Linked DNA regions of Homo sapiens: region 1 is linked to region 2. Evidence: fine-mapped expression QTL. Tissue or cell type: whole blood. Region 2 holds a variant in brackets; the other region holds the start of a gene. All regions are shown on one strand. Distances are from middle to middle.

What was found. PIP is the estimated chance that this variant, and not a neighbour inherited with it, causes the effect.
Region 1: HADH starts here. The variant in region 2 is fine-mapped to the expression of HADH in whole blood (INTERVAL, PIP 0.93).

The regions. Positions count from the first base shown.
Region 1 is chr4:107,986,336-107,994,511 of GRCh38, forward strand. HADH (hydroxyacyl-CoA dehydrogenase) reads left to right here and starts at 3,554. Exons shown (of 8, transcript NM_005327.7): 1 at 3,554-3,729. The coding sequence starts at 3,598. RefSeq lists a silencer at 3,321-3,550.
Region 2 is chr4:107,965,024-107,973,224 of GRCh38, forward strand. The region is part of intron 1 of LOC107986298 (a long non-coding RNA gene); the gene reads right to left. Among named protein-coding and RNA genes, the nearest start is that of HADH, 21 kb to the right of the region's middle. The variant A/C (reference allele first, on the strand shown) is at 3,944.

The sequences.
Region 1 (8,176 bases), 21 kb after region 2:
AGAGGGGATTGGTCAATGGGTGCAAAGTTACAGTTAGACAGGAAGAATAAAAGCTGCTATTCTATTACACAGTAGAATGACTACAGCTAATAATAATGTATTGTATATTTCAAGATAGCTAGAAGAGATGATTTTGAATGTTATCCCCAAAAAGAAATGATAAATGCTTAAAGTGACATATTATTTAATAATTATCCTGATTTGATCATTGTTCAACATATACATGCATTGAGACATCACACTGTACCCCATAAATATGTACAATTATTATTTGTCAATTGTACATAAAAGTAAAAAAAAAAAACTATCAGAATGATGCCTGCAAAAGGTATCTTGTGCTTCCGGGCATTGCATACTTAAGACGTTGGGGACTACCTATGTGGGTACAAATAATTGCTTGTGTGATTTCACTGGATTAAATCTAGCAAAGTCTTTTTACTAGATCCAGTGGTTTGCACCCTTACAACATGCTATATAGGGACCACAGAAGAGTAAGTTCACCACTGGATTTTATTCAGGAGCTATGCCAACTTGTGGGTGGACAAATTTAACTGACCTCGGCTCAAACACCACTAAGTGGCCCTCTTTTCAAGCCCCCAAGGGCCTACATTGGGTTGGTGGATAATCTGACCTGCCTTCTCTGTTGTTTCCTCACTGGTTCAGATCTTGCTATTTGGCCTGGCTCGCTCCTACATCCCAATAGCCTTCCCTGAAAGTTCCCATAATACCTTTCATAATCAGAGGTTAAAGCAGTCAATAACCAAAGTAAGCACCAACCTAAAAATAAATGAAGACAAGTTAGTTTCTACTGAGGAAAGGTTCCAATGGAGGTGCTGGAACTCACTCTTGGCATTAGCAGGGTGCCTGTTGTATGGAATTTGAAACTAATCTATAAATTGGGGAAAATCTTGAATTTGTAGCCAGTCAGACCTCCTAGGGGTTCACATGGTAGAAGCTACTCAAATATTCTCAGTGGATCAAAACATTTGTGTTCAACAAACACACTTCATGGAACATTACACAACTTTGGATCTCCTCTTTGCTCATGCTGGGGGCTCTTGCATGGTGCTGAATAAAACTGAATGTTGCACTTATTTTTCCTCTAATTTTACTACTATAGAAAACTTAATTTAAAAGGTGGCAGATACTGCTGTTTCTCTAAACACTGCCACTGAATATATTAAGGAAACTTCTCAGGGGAAAGGAACACATGATACATTTATGGGAGCAGCTAATGGTTGGTTTGTAGGCATCCTGAGTAGTGAAAGGCAAGCTAGGCTATTCCAAACTTTTCTAATCTTTATGCTTCTTTAGTGGCTCTCCAGGTTATTATAACTTGTGTTACCAGGCTAATTACAAAAATGGATACCTCTTTAAATCAGGCCATAAGGCTGAATCAGGTCATTCAGTGAACTATGGTCCTTGTAAAAAGTAAAGTAGAGGTTCCTTTTCAAAGACTTTCCTCCTCATCTGATTAGGAATAAATAGTAACCTCTCTTAGAAGCAAAATTTATTCAAAGACCTGTTAACATTCTTAAATATCTGCTAGCTGTAATAAAGAAATCAATGTACTTTATGTTCTTAGCTCCCACAATTTAGCCTAAATATTTGCCCTGGCATGCTTATACTGGTCCAAGTGGGCATTAGGTCATAGCCTGTTCCTCTTCCTTATTTAGAGGTGTTTTTCCCTTCTCAGCATTCCACAAGTTACTTCCTCCTTCCTTTGTTCTCCTCTGCCTTTGCCTCTTTTAAGAATTTCTAAGTTGCTAGCCAATCAAGACAAATACAGAATGTGAAGTCCCGTTCTAGCCAATGGAAACCAGTCACAACAGTAAGGTGGACGGGTCAGGTTATAAATGACCCTGCCTCCTTTGTTCGGTGTACTCTTGTGGCAAAACTGCTGGCGAGTGTACTCTTTCCGCAGAAAGTAAAAATGGCCTTGCTAAAGAAATTAATTTTATGTTCAAGTGCTATTTCTTTACGGCACCAAGAAATAAGCATTTCTAGCAGTCCTTAACCGCCATAATGCCCTAAATTAGACCATGACCAATTGGACTCAAATACTTTGAACTATCTTTATTGCCTGAACTTTGAATTGTTTAATTTTGATCAGTTCAGTTTGTGGAGACTCCTGTTAAGGTGTGTACCTCAGTTTATTGCTATACTCCTTCTCGTGGCCATAATAGTCTCCCTGATGTGTTGTTGTCCCCTCGAGAGTCTTCAATGTCTCTATGCAGCCATCCTTTGTACACCAAATGGTGTTATTACAGTTAGAATAACAACATGAAGAAAGTATAATCACTCAACTAATTTGACATTGTGACTTCCATACTGAGACAAAACAAGGTTCTGGTCAATCTCGTAAAACTGAGAGGCTGACCCAAAGGAGGAAACTGTTATTAAATTAAATCTGGCCTAAAGTTGCCTCCCTACCTAGCAAAGCATAATCAAACCTAATATGTAAATAAACTGCAATGTAATTTGAGAGTACGTTCTTCTAACAAGTGGCCAAGTCTTGGCCAATCACCGCAGCGGAGCTTTTAGCCCATTACAGGCTGCAAAAAATATTGTCTATAAACGCGGCTTGCCCACTGTTAGGGGCTGGAGCTCTCTGAACCTTTACTGGCTCAGGATACTACATGATTCATGCTTTCTTTGCTCAGATAAACTCTGCTAAACTTGTTTGAAGTTTTTTTGTTAACAATATTTAAACATAAAGCAAATAAATTAATAAGAATCCTATATCACTAAGTTACAGTAATTAGAAAGTATTCACCTGAGTGAGAAGATTGGCCAAGCTGCTATCCAGTCTTCCATTATTTGACAAGACATTTCTTTCCTATGCTTTCTAATAGTATTCGTTATTCCAGAAAGGTTGCTCTATGACCTTAAACCGTCCACATGTTCACTGCACTGATAGACGTCCAACGTCAAGATGGGTAACTAAAGGTCAACTCTCTCTTTACCTTCCCTGAGCCTGATTTTTGCATTGTAACTCATGGTCACTAGACATTTGTTTTGGGTGTTCGCAGTCTACATTTATTTCCCTTTTAGGGGAAACAATCACTGTCCACGGGATTAAAATAATCCCGAGTTGATTATTTGGTGACATCAACCAACGGTGCACATTTTGGGTCCATTACCAACACAGCCAAGCAGCACATATTTCTTCAGAGCCTAGATATGCACATGTCATCAAAGGATAGCATTTTACAGAGTCAACACCACTCACTTCATAGAACAAGGGGCCAGTGGCTTTTCAGAAGAAGGGTCTGTTCTCGGCCCCACACCAGAACGCCAGCCGCCAGGTCCCGCTGCTCAGCAGGTCTCAAGCCCGCGCTCACTCGGGCTCCGGCTGCTGACAGCTGCGAGCCCGCGCGTGTATACCCGCTCAACGCTGGGACGTTACAGCCAGGGCCAATGGGCAGAGCGGGACTCGAGGCCCCGCCCCCGCCTTGTGGCGTCACGGGGACGCCGGGGGCGCGCGGGCTGCAGGGCCGCGTAGGTCCCCGCCCCCAGAGTCTGGCTTTCCGCGGCTGCCCGCCTCGCGCGTCTTCCCTGCCCGGGTCTCCTCGCTGTCGCCGCCGCTGCCACACCATGGCCTTCGTCACCAGGCAGTTCATGCGTTCCGTGTCCTCCTCGTCCACCGCCTCGGCCTCGGCCAAGAAGATAATCGTCAAGCACGTGACGGTCATCGGCGGCGGGCTGATGGGCGCCGGCATTGCCCAGGTGAGCGGCCCTCCCTGCAGCGTGCCCACGCGCTTGGCCGCCCACCCTGAGGTGGAAGCTCTGGCGCGACCGGCCGCGAGGGGCCTGCACCCGCCCGACACCAGGGAGTTTTCACCCCGCGCCTCCCGGGTGTAGTTGAAATATCTCGCGTCTGGGCCTGTGAGGGCCCAAGTCTCACTCCCCTCAAAATTCAGGGTTCTGGGCCGATCCTCAGCTTCCTCGTTTGGAAAATTCTGGCTGCCCCCAGGGCCCGCTGAAGGTTCCATGGAGAGTGGCGGTGAATGCATTTTGGAAGCGGGCCGTGCAAGAGAAGAAAGAATTGTATGTGCACAAGGTTCAGGCATAACGCGTTTGTTCCTGCTCGGCTCAAACGGGAGTTTGCTGCCAAAGACATGAACTGCGATCAGTTTTAATTCTATCAGTTATTTTTGATTTTTATTCTGTAATTGTGCAGTCTTTGTCAAAGTAGTTTTCTCTCCTAAACGGCCTCCCGGCTCTCCCCGGTCTTTCCTTCGCTTGCTAGGTTGTAAAGAATAGTAGTAGTCATGACTTTTGTAGCACTTTGTAAAGTCACCTAATGGAAGATTGCTGAGGTCCTGGTTTTGACCTTTGAAATAGTGCCGTCTGTGCAGAGTTCTGAGCTTGCGATTTTGGCGCTGCAGCGGAATAAGTCTCTCTCTTTTTTTTTTTTTTTTTTTTTTTGAGTCGGAGTCTCTTTGACCCAGGCTGGAGTGGAGTGCAATGGCGCGATCTCGGTTCACTGCAACCTCCGCCTCCCGGGTTCAAGCGATTCTCCTGCCTCAGCCTCCCGAGTAGCTGGGATTACAGGCGCCCCGCCCGGCTAATTTTATATTTTTAGTAGAGACAGGGTTTCACCTTGTGGGTCAGGCTGATCTCGAACTCCTGACCAAAGGTGATCCGCCCGCCTGGCCTCCCGAAGTGCTGGGATTACAGGCGTTAGCCACTGCACCCAGCCGGAACAAGTCTTTTATCCATTGTACATCTTCAGGGCTTTTCCATTGTTCTGCTGAGCTGTGGTTCAGGCTCAGTTGTGCGAGTGATTGATTACCTGGCTACTGTAATGCTTGTACTTTTTTTTTTTAAAAATTATTCCATTTCAGCTCACATTGGAGAACCATGGTTTTCGTATCCTAGCTGATTATATTCTTAGCATTTCAGTCCTTTGCAACTTGGTTTGTTGGGGAAGGCGGTTATAGTCATCTAATTTTTCTTGGGGACAGTACTACTGTGGCTACAGTCATGAGAGAGTTTACTTTTTCAATGTCTTGTTTCCAACCAAGTCCACGCTTTCATGCTTGCTTTTTAAAAACAAAAACAAAAAAACCTTTTACTATTAGGTATTATATATCTCAATTTTCTTCTCCTTGGCAAGTTTTTTACAACGTTTTTATTTGATTGCATTTTCTTCTAAAAGCTATATCCCTGTAATGTTTTATTTATATGACTTCTTACAGTCTCCCATTTCCTCTGAGACCATAATTTTGGACATACATTGCCCTTTTTATTGTGTGGATCCCCTGGCTGCTAGGTTATAGTATCCCCATAATCTATGTTGTATGTGGACTGGGAGGAGTAACTCCCTTTAACCTAAAAGTTCCACAGGTTATACTCAAGAGAAAGTTTAGTTTGAGTACGTTTGTATTCCCAGGCTCCACCCAAATCTCCCAAGGCTGTGAGAGTGAGATTTGTTGTGAGCAGGAATAGAACAATGTGTTTTTTAGAAACATTTTAACAACATCTTAGTAACAAAATATTAGGGCCTTAAGCAGCCTCCAGGAACATTATGGGAAATGGATCCAGAAACTTGTGGCTGGTGTCCTTGAAGACAGCAGTGGAAAAAGATTAGAAACTAAGTAGAAAGCGTCACTTCAACTTTTGTAGAAAATCAGAGTGCTTAGTTCTTTGAATGCTGCATCCATCATTGGCCAAAAATGGATGTTGTGTTGCATTAAAAGGCAGAGGGGCAATACCTAAAATTACAGGTATGGTGTTGGAGCTTTCACCTGACAAAGGAGTAAGGAGAAATGATTGACATTAATGGAGAACACAGGCTTGTGCTTGTCAATCAAACTCTTAAATAGGTGGACCAGGGAGTGCCTTTTGAAACTTAAGGGAAAAAAAAGCTATTTATGCCATAGGCTGGACACATAATGGAACTGTCATTCTGAAAGGTTATAAAGACCAGAAATCTATAAAGTGGACGACCATAAGAAACAGTTCCATCCTTATGTAACACAGTTTGGAAAAACCTCAGTTACTTTAGTTGACAGCTCCAATCCTCTAAAACATTTGTGAGCAATGCTTTGCAGTGGTTTAGCTTATCTGCTTTTGCACCCTACCCTGTAGCATGCAGTTCTAGGCAGTATTGCTTCATTCTTTATGCTCCTTGACCAACAGCTTTTGGCATAGGGTAAATCTGTTTTGCTTATTGAGTGCCAGAGACGAATTAGTTGATGTGTTTTGAGTACAGATGGGCTACAGTTCAATATAAGAAGTTGGATGGTCTGCATGCTAGCTCTGCCTCATGCAGTATTAACATGGGACTTTACCTCTGTGTCTCGGTTTTCTCATCTCTAAAGTAGACTAATGCTAGTACTGGCCTCGTAGGGAGAGAATTGAATAAATTCAATGAATTCATGCATATGTCAAGCAGTTACATATATCAAGCATATGTCAAGCACTTACACAGTGTCTGGCATGTAATAAGAGTTCACAGAAAGTTAGCTGCCTTTATAATAATTATCTTCGGCCCGGCATGGTGGCTCAAGCCTGTAATCCCAGCACTTTGGGAGGCTGAGGGGGGCAGATCATCTGAGGTCAGGAGTTCAAGACCAGCCTGGCCAATATGGTGAAACCCTGTCTCTACTAAAAATACAAAAAAATTAGCCAGCATGGTGGCATGTGCCTGTGGTCCCACCTACTTGGAAGGCTGTGGCAGAATAGTCTCTTGAACCTGAGAGGTGGAGGTTGCAGTGAGCCGAGATCGCACCACTGCACTGTAGCCTGGGCAACAGAGCGAGACTCCGTCTCAAAAAGATAAATAAAAAGAATAATCATCATCTTCATTGCAGTTGTCCTGTCCTTTTGCCCTTTTCCCCTCATATCCACTCCCATCCTGATCACAGCTGCTGAGGTAGGCCTGTAAGGTTTAGATGGAGAATATTGGTCATGATTCCCTGTTTCATCTTGCTTAATCTTGAATGCATATACCCGCTGATGCTGCAGCGGGTATGTTTTTTCAGGGACCTCTGAAAGGAGGGAGAACACTTTTTAGTTACCCCCCATTTTATTGTTAAACTTTAGTAAAGCCATAAAAGTACAATCACAAACTAGTATTGAGGTTATGTTACTGATTTTCATTAGCTTAATTTTCTTGAACTTTCTGACGTGGTTTTAATGTTAGTCAAGGTGCAGTTCTGCTTATAATTTTAATAGTTTTGTCATTTTAAACACGTCAGTTTGTGCTCAGAAGGATGAAAAAATATTTAAATAGATTTTGTGGGAGCCTGATGCATTTCTCAAGCAATTAAGCAATTTAAGACAAGTTCAGTGCTTAATTACATTTGATCAGAGCACAGGCCATTTGTACATGTGTATTTTCCGAGAGTATCTACTTTGCCTGTCATTTCTTTTGTTTGTTTTAAATTAAAAAAACAAAAAATCCCTTAGACTGCAGGTTAATATTTGAAGTTAACTTGTTTCATGTGTTTGCTTATTACACACTTCTGACTTGGTTTTGATTGCTAATTTATCTTCACTGGATACTTAGGCCAATAAAGAAGCTTATAGGATTAAATGAGCCTTGAGTGGGGGACAGGTTGTTTTTTTGCTTTATAAAGAGGAAAACAAGAAAGGAAGAAAGCTGGTAGCTGTGTGCATTTCTCCAGTATTGAATCCTTTCTAGGCTTTGCTTCATACATTGGGTTTTTTCATATGAGGAGCCCAGAGAGAATGCATAGCTTTCATTAGATTACTTGTGAGGAGCCAGTGGGCTCCCTGGGAACGGGGCACTTCAGATGTCCCCCTTGAGACACTTTACATGCTCTCCGGGTGCAACCTTCTTTTTAGTGCACTACTCTTCTTTGAGGAAGTGAGAAAGTTTGCATCTTAAAGGGGGTTGGGGATAGGTTCTTCTCTCCCAAAGCTTGCTTTTTTTTTTTCCTCCTTTTTAAAAAGCAGAAAGTGCATATTTTTTCTAGAGAGAGCTTCTTTGGCTATTAAAAACAAAGTAAGGGCAGGGAGAGCCTGCTACGTTGCAGGGATTTTGTGTGACTCTACCATGCTTGATAAGGATTCAGGTAGACCTGAAAGCTTCTCCCCAGCCACTGGATTTGTTCTCTCATCTCTTCTTCTTGCCCCCAAATCTGCATTTTCTGATGCTGAAAAAGAGAATGATCAGAGTTGTTTCATATTTTTTTAGCTTTAT
Region 2 (8,201 bases):
TCTGACACCATAAACAAAAATAAACTCAAAATGGATTAAAAACTTAAACATAAGACTCAGAACCGTAAAACTACTAGAAGAAAGCATAGGGAAAAAGCTTTCTGACATTTGTCTTGGCAATAATATGTTTGAATAAGATAGCAAGAGTACAGGCAACAAAAGCAAAAATAGACAAGTAGAATCACATCAAATTAAAAAACTGCTGCCCAGCAAAGAAAAAAAAATCACAGAGTTAAATAACAACCTATGGAATGGGAGAAAATATTTGTAAACCATATATCTTACAAGGAGTTAATATCCAAAATATATAAGGAACTCACACGAGTCAATAGCAAAAGCAAATAATCCAATTATAAAATGGGCAAAGGACCTAAATAGGCATTTCTAGAAAGAAGATATACAAATGGCCAACAGGTATATGTAATGGTGCTCAACATCACTAATCATCAGGGAAATGCAGATGAAAACCCAATGAAACATCACCTCATAACTATCAGGATGGCTATTAATCAAAAAGACAAGAGATTAAAAGTGTTGACAAAGATGCAGGAAAAAGGGAACCCTTGTACAGTGTTCATGAGAATTTATATTGGGACAGCCTTTATCAAAAACAGTATACAGGGTCCTCAAAAAATAAAAAATAGAACGACCATATTATCTAGCAATCCCTCTTTTGGGATATACCCACAGAAATGGAAATCAAGATTAAGATCTTGAAGATTTATCTGCACTCCCATGTTCACTGCAGCATTATTCACAACAGCTAAGATATGAAAAGAGTGTAAGTATCCACTGATGGATGAATGGATAAAAGAAAATGTGGTGTACACACACACACACACACACACACACACACACACAATGGAATATTATTCAGCCTCAGGAAAGAATGAAATTTTGCCATTTGCAACAACATGGATGAACCTGGAGGATATTATGCTAAATGAAATAAGGCAGACACAGAAAAACAAATACTGCTTGATCCCATTGATGTGTGAAACCTAAAATAGTCGCACTCATAGAATTATAAAGCGAATGGTGGTTGCCAGGGGCAGTAGGGAGGGAGAAACGGTAATGCTGGTCAAAGGATAAAAAGTTTCAATATGCAGGATGAATACGTTCTACAGATCTAATGTACAGCCTGGTGGCTATGATTAACAATATTCCTTACTTGAAATTTTCTAAGAAGTAGATCTTAAATGTTTTTGCCACAAAAAAAGATAATAATAAAAGAAGAAAAAGAAAATGGTAACTTGGTGAGGTGATAGATATGTTAATTGGTTTGATTGTGAAGACCATTTCACAATGTATACATACATCAAAACATCAAGTTGTATACCTTAAATATGTACAATTTTTATCCATCAATGTTCTTCAATAAGGCTGTTTAAAGAAAAAAAGAAAAAATCCAACTCTTAAAAAAATAATAGAATCAATCAGAAAACTAAAACAGCATACACTTAATGACATAAAAATAGAAAACTCTTGTATTCCAAAAAACGGCTGGCAAATCATGAAAAAATGTTTGTATCAGCCTTGCCAAAAATTCAATATCCTTAATATATAAAGTGCTTATAAGTCAGTGCTTATAAATCCATATATACTATAATATATAGTATCTTTAATATTTTCATATACTATAGCATAGTATTTCTTCTAGTGAACTGTAAGTGCTATAATTCAGTAGTAGAATACCCTAATTTTAAAAACAGGCAAAAGATACAAATTATTGTGTTAAACTTTTAAGTTCAGGGGTACATGTGCAGGTTTGTTACATAGGATAACTGTGTCATGGTGATACAGGAGTTAAGAAGAAATCACTTAGGCAGATAGTGAGGGTACAGAAGTCCTCGGTAAGGCTTTTCTCTTTAATGAAAAGCAGCCCCAAATCATTGTCTAACAAAGAGCAGCCTGTAAAGTCAAGCGGCAGACATAGACGAGGAAGCTGGGAGCTTGCATGGGTGAATGCTGGCAGGAACTAGGGGCTAGACATGTTTAAGATGGCAGCTTCATCTTCCCTTCTCTGCCAGCCATGTGTACAGTAAGAAGCAGACAAGATGGCTCAGATCAACTGGAAAGCCCATTTGCATAATAAGATTAGGGTGAGACAACCGGCCTTTCCCCATCTGCTATGTAAATGTCATACCTGATCGAACCTATCTGTGAACCCTTTGTAAATCAGACACTGCCTCCTCAAACCTGACTATAAAATTCAATGCCACCTGCAGGTCTTTTCCATTCAGGGACCCCACTCTCTCTATAGAGAAAGCTGTTTCTCTTTCTCTTCTCTTCTGCCTATTAAACCTCCACTCCTAAACTCCTCTTGTTTGTCCATGTCTTAACATTTTCCTGGTGCACGACCATGAACCCCAGGGTATATACCCCAGACAACATAGTCACTTCTATGGGGGTTTATTGTACAGATTATTTCATCACCCAGGTATTAAACCTAGTACCCATTAGTGATTTTTCCTGATCCTCTCCCTCCTCCCACCCTCCACCTTGAGATAGGCCCCAGTGTGTGTTGTTCCCCTCTATGTGTCCATGTGTTCTTATCATTTAGCTCCCACTTATAAGTGAGAGCATGAGGTATTTGGTTTTCTGTTCCTGCATTAGTTTGCTAAGGATAATGGCCTCCAGCTCCATCCACATCCCTGTGAAGGATATGATCTCATTCTTTTTTATGGCTGCATAGTATTCCATGTTGTATATGTACCACATTTTCTTTACCCAGTCTATCATTGATGGGCATTTAGATTGACTCCATGTTTTTGCTATTGTGAATAGTGCTGCAATGAACATGTGTGCATGTGTCTTTATAATATAATGATTTATATTCCTTTGGGTATATATCCAGTAATAGATTGCTGGCTCAAAAAGTAGTTCTGTCTTTAGGTCTCTGAGGAATCACCACACTGTCTTCCACAATGGTTGAACTAATTTACACTCCCATCAACAATGTATAAGCATTCCTTTTTCTCCACAACCTCACTAGCATCTGTTATTTTTTTATTTTCTTAACAGCCAATCTTACTGGTGTGAAATGGTTTCTCACTGTGGTTTTGATTTGCATTTCTCTAATGATTAGCGATACTGAGCTTTTTTATATAATTGTTGGCCACATGTATGTCTTCTTTTGAGAAGTGTCTGTTCATATCCTTTGCCCACTTTTTAATGAGATTGTTTGTTTTTTCTTGTAAATTTGTTTAAGTTCCTTATAGACTTTTGATATCAGACCTTTGTTGAATGTAGTTTGCAAAATTTTTCTCCCATTCTGTGGGTTGTCTGTTTACTCTGTTGATAGTCTCTTTTGCTGTATAGAACCTCTTTAGTTTAATTAGATCCCATTTGTCAATTTTTGCTTTTGTTGCAATTGCTTTTGGTATGTTTATCATGAAATCTTTGCCAGTGCCTATGTCCTGAATGGTATTGCCTAGGTTATCTTCTAGAGTTTTTATAGTTTTGGGTTTTACATTTAAGTCTTTAATCCATCTTGAGTTAATTTTTGAGATATAATTTTTTTTTTGAGACAGTCTCTCTCTGTCACCCAGGCTGGAGTGCAGTGGCTCAAACTCGATTCACTGCAACCTCCACCTCCTAGGTTCAAGCAATTCTTGTGCCTCAGCCTCCCGAGTAACTGGGATTACAGGCACGTGCCACCACCCCCAGCTAATTTTTATATTTTTAGTAGAGACAAGGTTTCACCCTGTTGGCCAGACTGGTCTCGAACTCCTGGCCTCAAGTGATCCACCTGCCTCAGCCTCCAAAGTGCTGGGATTACAGGCATCAGCCACCATGCCTGGCCAAAAATTTTTAGGAATACAAATGGCCAATAATATAAAACATTTTTCAAATTCATTGAAATGGAACTATTACAGTGAGACACCATTTTTAACCATTGAATTTTAAAGATATTTTTGAAAAAGGAAAATACTAAGTATTG[A/C]TAAGAGAGAAGCAGTCATACATTGCTGTTGGCAATACAGACTGGAACCACATATCTGGAGAAAATTTAAGAATATGTACCAAGATTCTAATTATTCCTAAATGCACAGTGGCATCCTAGATTGAATCCTGGAACAGAATACTGACTTTAGTGGAAAAACTGGTGAACTCAAATAACATCTGTAGTTTAGTTAATAGTATCATACCAATGTTAATTTCTTAGTTTTGACAAATGAACCATGGTTATGTAAGATGTCAAAATTAGTAGAGGTTGGGTGAAGGAAATATAAGAACTTTGGACCATTTTTGCAATTTTTCTGTAACTTAAAATCATCCCCAAATTTTAAAAATTAGGCATTTATGTCATTTAGCCCAATAAATTCTACTCTAAGATACTAACTATGGGAGATAATCAGATGAAAAATAGTTTGGGATACGTTATTCATTGCAGTGATATATTTGAGAGCAATGGAGAAGAGAAATGGAAAGAAAAGAAAAAAAGGGATAAAAAATCCACATGCTCAACACTATGGTCAATGGAATACCCACCCTCATCCATGCACAAAACAATTATGAGGCCTGTTCTAGATGTTGGGGCACAGCAGTGAACAAAAGAAAAATCTGTGATGTAAGAAGCTTAATTCCTGGCCAGGCATTGTGGCTCATGCCTGTAATCCCAGCACTTTGGGAGGCAGAGGTAGGTGGATCGCTTGATGTCAGGAGTTCGAGACCAGCTTGGCTAACATGGTGAAACCCTGTCTTTACTAAAAATACAAAAAATTAGCTGGGCGTGGTGTCAGGCACCTGCAATCCCAGCTACTCGAGAGGCAGAGGCAGGAGAATTGCTTGAACCCCAGGAGGTGGAGGTGACAGTGAGCAGAGATTGCACCACCACTCTCCAGCCTGGGTGACAGAGTGAGACTCCATCTCAAAAGAAAAAAAAAAGAAGAGGCTTAATTCCTGAAAGGGGAAAAAAAGTTGAATGGATAAGAGAAACAAAATGTGTAGCATGTTAGTGATAAGTGTTAAGAAATAAAACTAGCAAGGGGATACAAAATGTCAGGGAGAGGTTACAATTTTAGGTGGCGAGACCAGGGAAGGTGGCCTCACTGGGAGGGTGATTTTTAAGTGAACAGCCAAGGAATTGAGGTGTGAGCCCTGTAGATATCTAGGAAAGGAACACCCCAGGCAGAGGGAACAGCAAGTCCAAAGCCCTCATAGTGAGCGTGTGCCTGCAAGGTCTGAGGAACAGCAGCAGGGAAACAGCACAGCTGAAGCAGAGTGAATGGACAAAAGAGAGTAGCGGATAGTGGTGCGGGGGAGTGCGTGGGGTAAAGACTTGCTCTTATCTGAATAAAATGGGAGCTATGGGAGAGTTTTTAGCAGAGAAGGGACATGATCTGACTTACAATGTATATGTTTGATTTTTGTTTTACTCTTAATTCTTTTCTACATTTCTCAAATTTTCTATAACGAACATCTATTCCTTGAAAAAATAAAGGAACAATGTCCTACCAGATTGCGATAGCTTGCCTGGAAACAATTGAGTTATTTCTTTCTTTTTTTTTTTCTGAGACAGGGTCTCACTCTGTCATCCAGGCTGGAGTGTCGTGGCGCGATCATGGCTCACAGCAGCCTGGACATCCTGGGCTGGAGCGAGCCTCCCACCTCTGTCTCTTGAAGACCTAGGACCATAGGCATGCACCAATGTGCCCAGCTAATTTTTGTACTTTTTTTTAGATGGGGCGGGGGGGGGGAGGGTCTCACCATGTTGCCCAGGCTGGTCTTGAATCCATGGGCTCAAACGATCCTCCCACCTTGGCCTCCCAATGTGCTAGGATTACAGGCATGAACCACCATTGAGTTATTTCTTATTGAGTTATTTCTTATAGCACAGAGCCTATTTGGTTCATGATACTTTAATACTCATCTGTAAAATGAAAGCCTCAATAGCTCTTACTAAAGCATACTAAGAATGTTTAATTGAAAACATCTTTAGTCTAGGCCGGGTGCGGTGGCTCATGCCTGTAATCCCAGCACTTTGGGAGGCTGAGACGGGTGGATCACTTGAGGTCAGGAGTTCCAGACCAGCCTGGCCAGCACAGTGAAACCCCATCTCTACTAAAAATACAAAAATTAGCCAGGCATGGTGGTACACACCTGTAGTCCCAGCTACTCAGGAGGCTGAGGCAGGAGAATCGCTTGAACTCGGGAGTCAGAGGTGGCAGTGAGCCGAGATTGCACCATGGCACTCCAGCCTGGGTGACAGAGCGAGACTCCATCTCAAAAAAACAAAAAAAAAAAGAAGAAGAAGAAGAAAACTTTTAGTCTAAAATGATGATATGCTAGAGTTTAATTACAGAATTTTAGAACTAAAAGGGAGTTTAGAGATTATCTAATTTAGTCTCCTAGTAGATGAACTAAAGGAGACTAAAATCTATGTTCTGACCCCTGGTCTAATTTCACCATATTAAAAAAAAAAAAGAGAGAGAGAGAGAGAGAGTAAGAGAGATATATTGAGAGTAAGCTGCCAAATCTTAAGGACCTACCAAAAACAATCGCAGGTAGGATTCTTACTTCATATTGTTTCAAGCACCTACGTTAAATGGTATTATTTTTAAATATACATAAATGTAAAGCTATTCACTTATTCATTCAAGAAATATGTTGAATGGTTAGTATATGCCAAACACTGTTAAAATATTTAAGATGAAGAATTTTGAAGATTTTTTTTTCTGTCTCAAAGAAAAAAATCTTAAAGGCAAAAGTTACATTGGAGGCTGGGTGCAGTGGCTCACGCCTGTAATACCAACACTTTGGGAGGCTAAGGTGAGCAGATTACCTGAGGTCAGGAGTTCGAGACCAGCCTGGCCAAAATGGTGAAACTCTGTCTCTACTAAAAATACAAAAAAAAAAATTAGCCGGGCATGGTGCTACACGCTTGTAGTCCCAGCTACTTGGGAGGCTGAGGCAGGAGAATCGCTTGAACCCAGGAGGCAGAGGTTGCAGTGAGCCAAGATAGCTCACTGCACTCCAGCCTGGGCAACAGAGCAAGACTCTATCTCAAAAAAAAAAAAAGTTACATTGGTTGTTAAATAATTTTCCCTGGGGGCCTGGGATTAATGTAATACCATTTAGCTGTATATCTGTATATGCTGTATATTCTTTCTGCCCTATTAATAAGAAACGTAATTGTAGGAAAAACAATAAAGGCTTGCTCCTCTCAGGAAACATCTGACCAGGTACACAAAGATAAGTTGGAGACAGAAACTCCTAAGGGACCACAACTCAAGCCTGTGGTGGGAGTTACTGCATGAAATGGCATTGTTTTTAAATAGCCATAAATTTCAAGCTATTCACTTATTCATTCAAAAAATATGTTGAATGGTTAGTATATGCCAACACTGTTAAAATCTTTAAGATGAAGAATTTTCCCTAAATGCACCTCAGTATAACTCTGAACATAGTGAAACTACCTTTGCAGAATTGTTAAGTAATGAGAGAAATCTAACATGACTGACTGTCTTGCTTTTAACCTCAACCTCACAGGCTCTTCTCTTTTCCTCTCCTCTTTTTCTTTTCTCTTTTTTCTTTCTTTTTGTTGTTGTTTATTCTAGCATGGAGGCCAAGATAATATGAAGGGAATTTAGTTTATAGTTAAACTTTGAAGCAAGGAAAACTGAATCCCCTCTTGCTGGAGACTAATGCTGCATTCATAACACAAGATTAGAATTATGGTTGGGGCTTGAACCTTGCTAAAGAATAAGCATGGTTAAACAATAACCTACTGCTGCTTAGCTTGCTTTTCTATACATTGCTTTCTGCTCCAAAGTCACATGAGAGGTCATAAGATTTGTAACTCCCCAGCTACTCCTATAGATAACATAACTATTGTGAAACCTAAAGAACTGGTCTTTAAGATATTTTTCAGATTTAGCATTTCAACAAAGAGATACCACTTGGTTCTGAGAACACCCTTTCCCCCTTCCCTGGGAAGACTTAGCTGTGTGAAGACAATTTAGACACCTCTGTGATTTCATCTTCAGCCAATCAATTGTTTCAGTTTCCCCACTACCTGCCTACCAATTTACCCTTAAAAACTTTACCCTCTGAATTATTGGAGAGACAGATTTGAGAAATTTCTCCCATTCCCCTCATTTGTCTGGCCCCACAATAATTAAACTCTTTCTTTGCTGCAATACTTGCTGTTCTCAGTGCATTGGTTTTTCTGAGCAGCAGGCAAGAAGAACCTGTCAGTC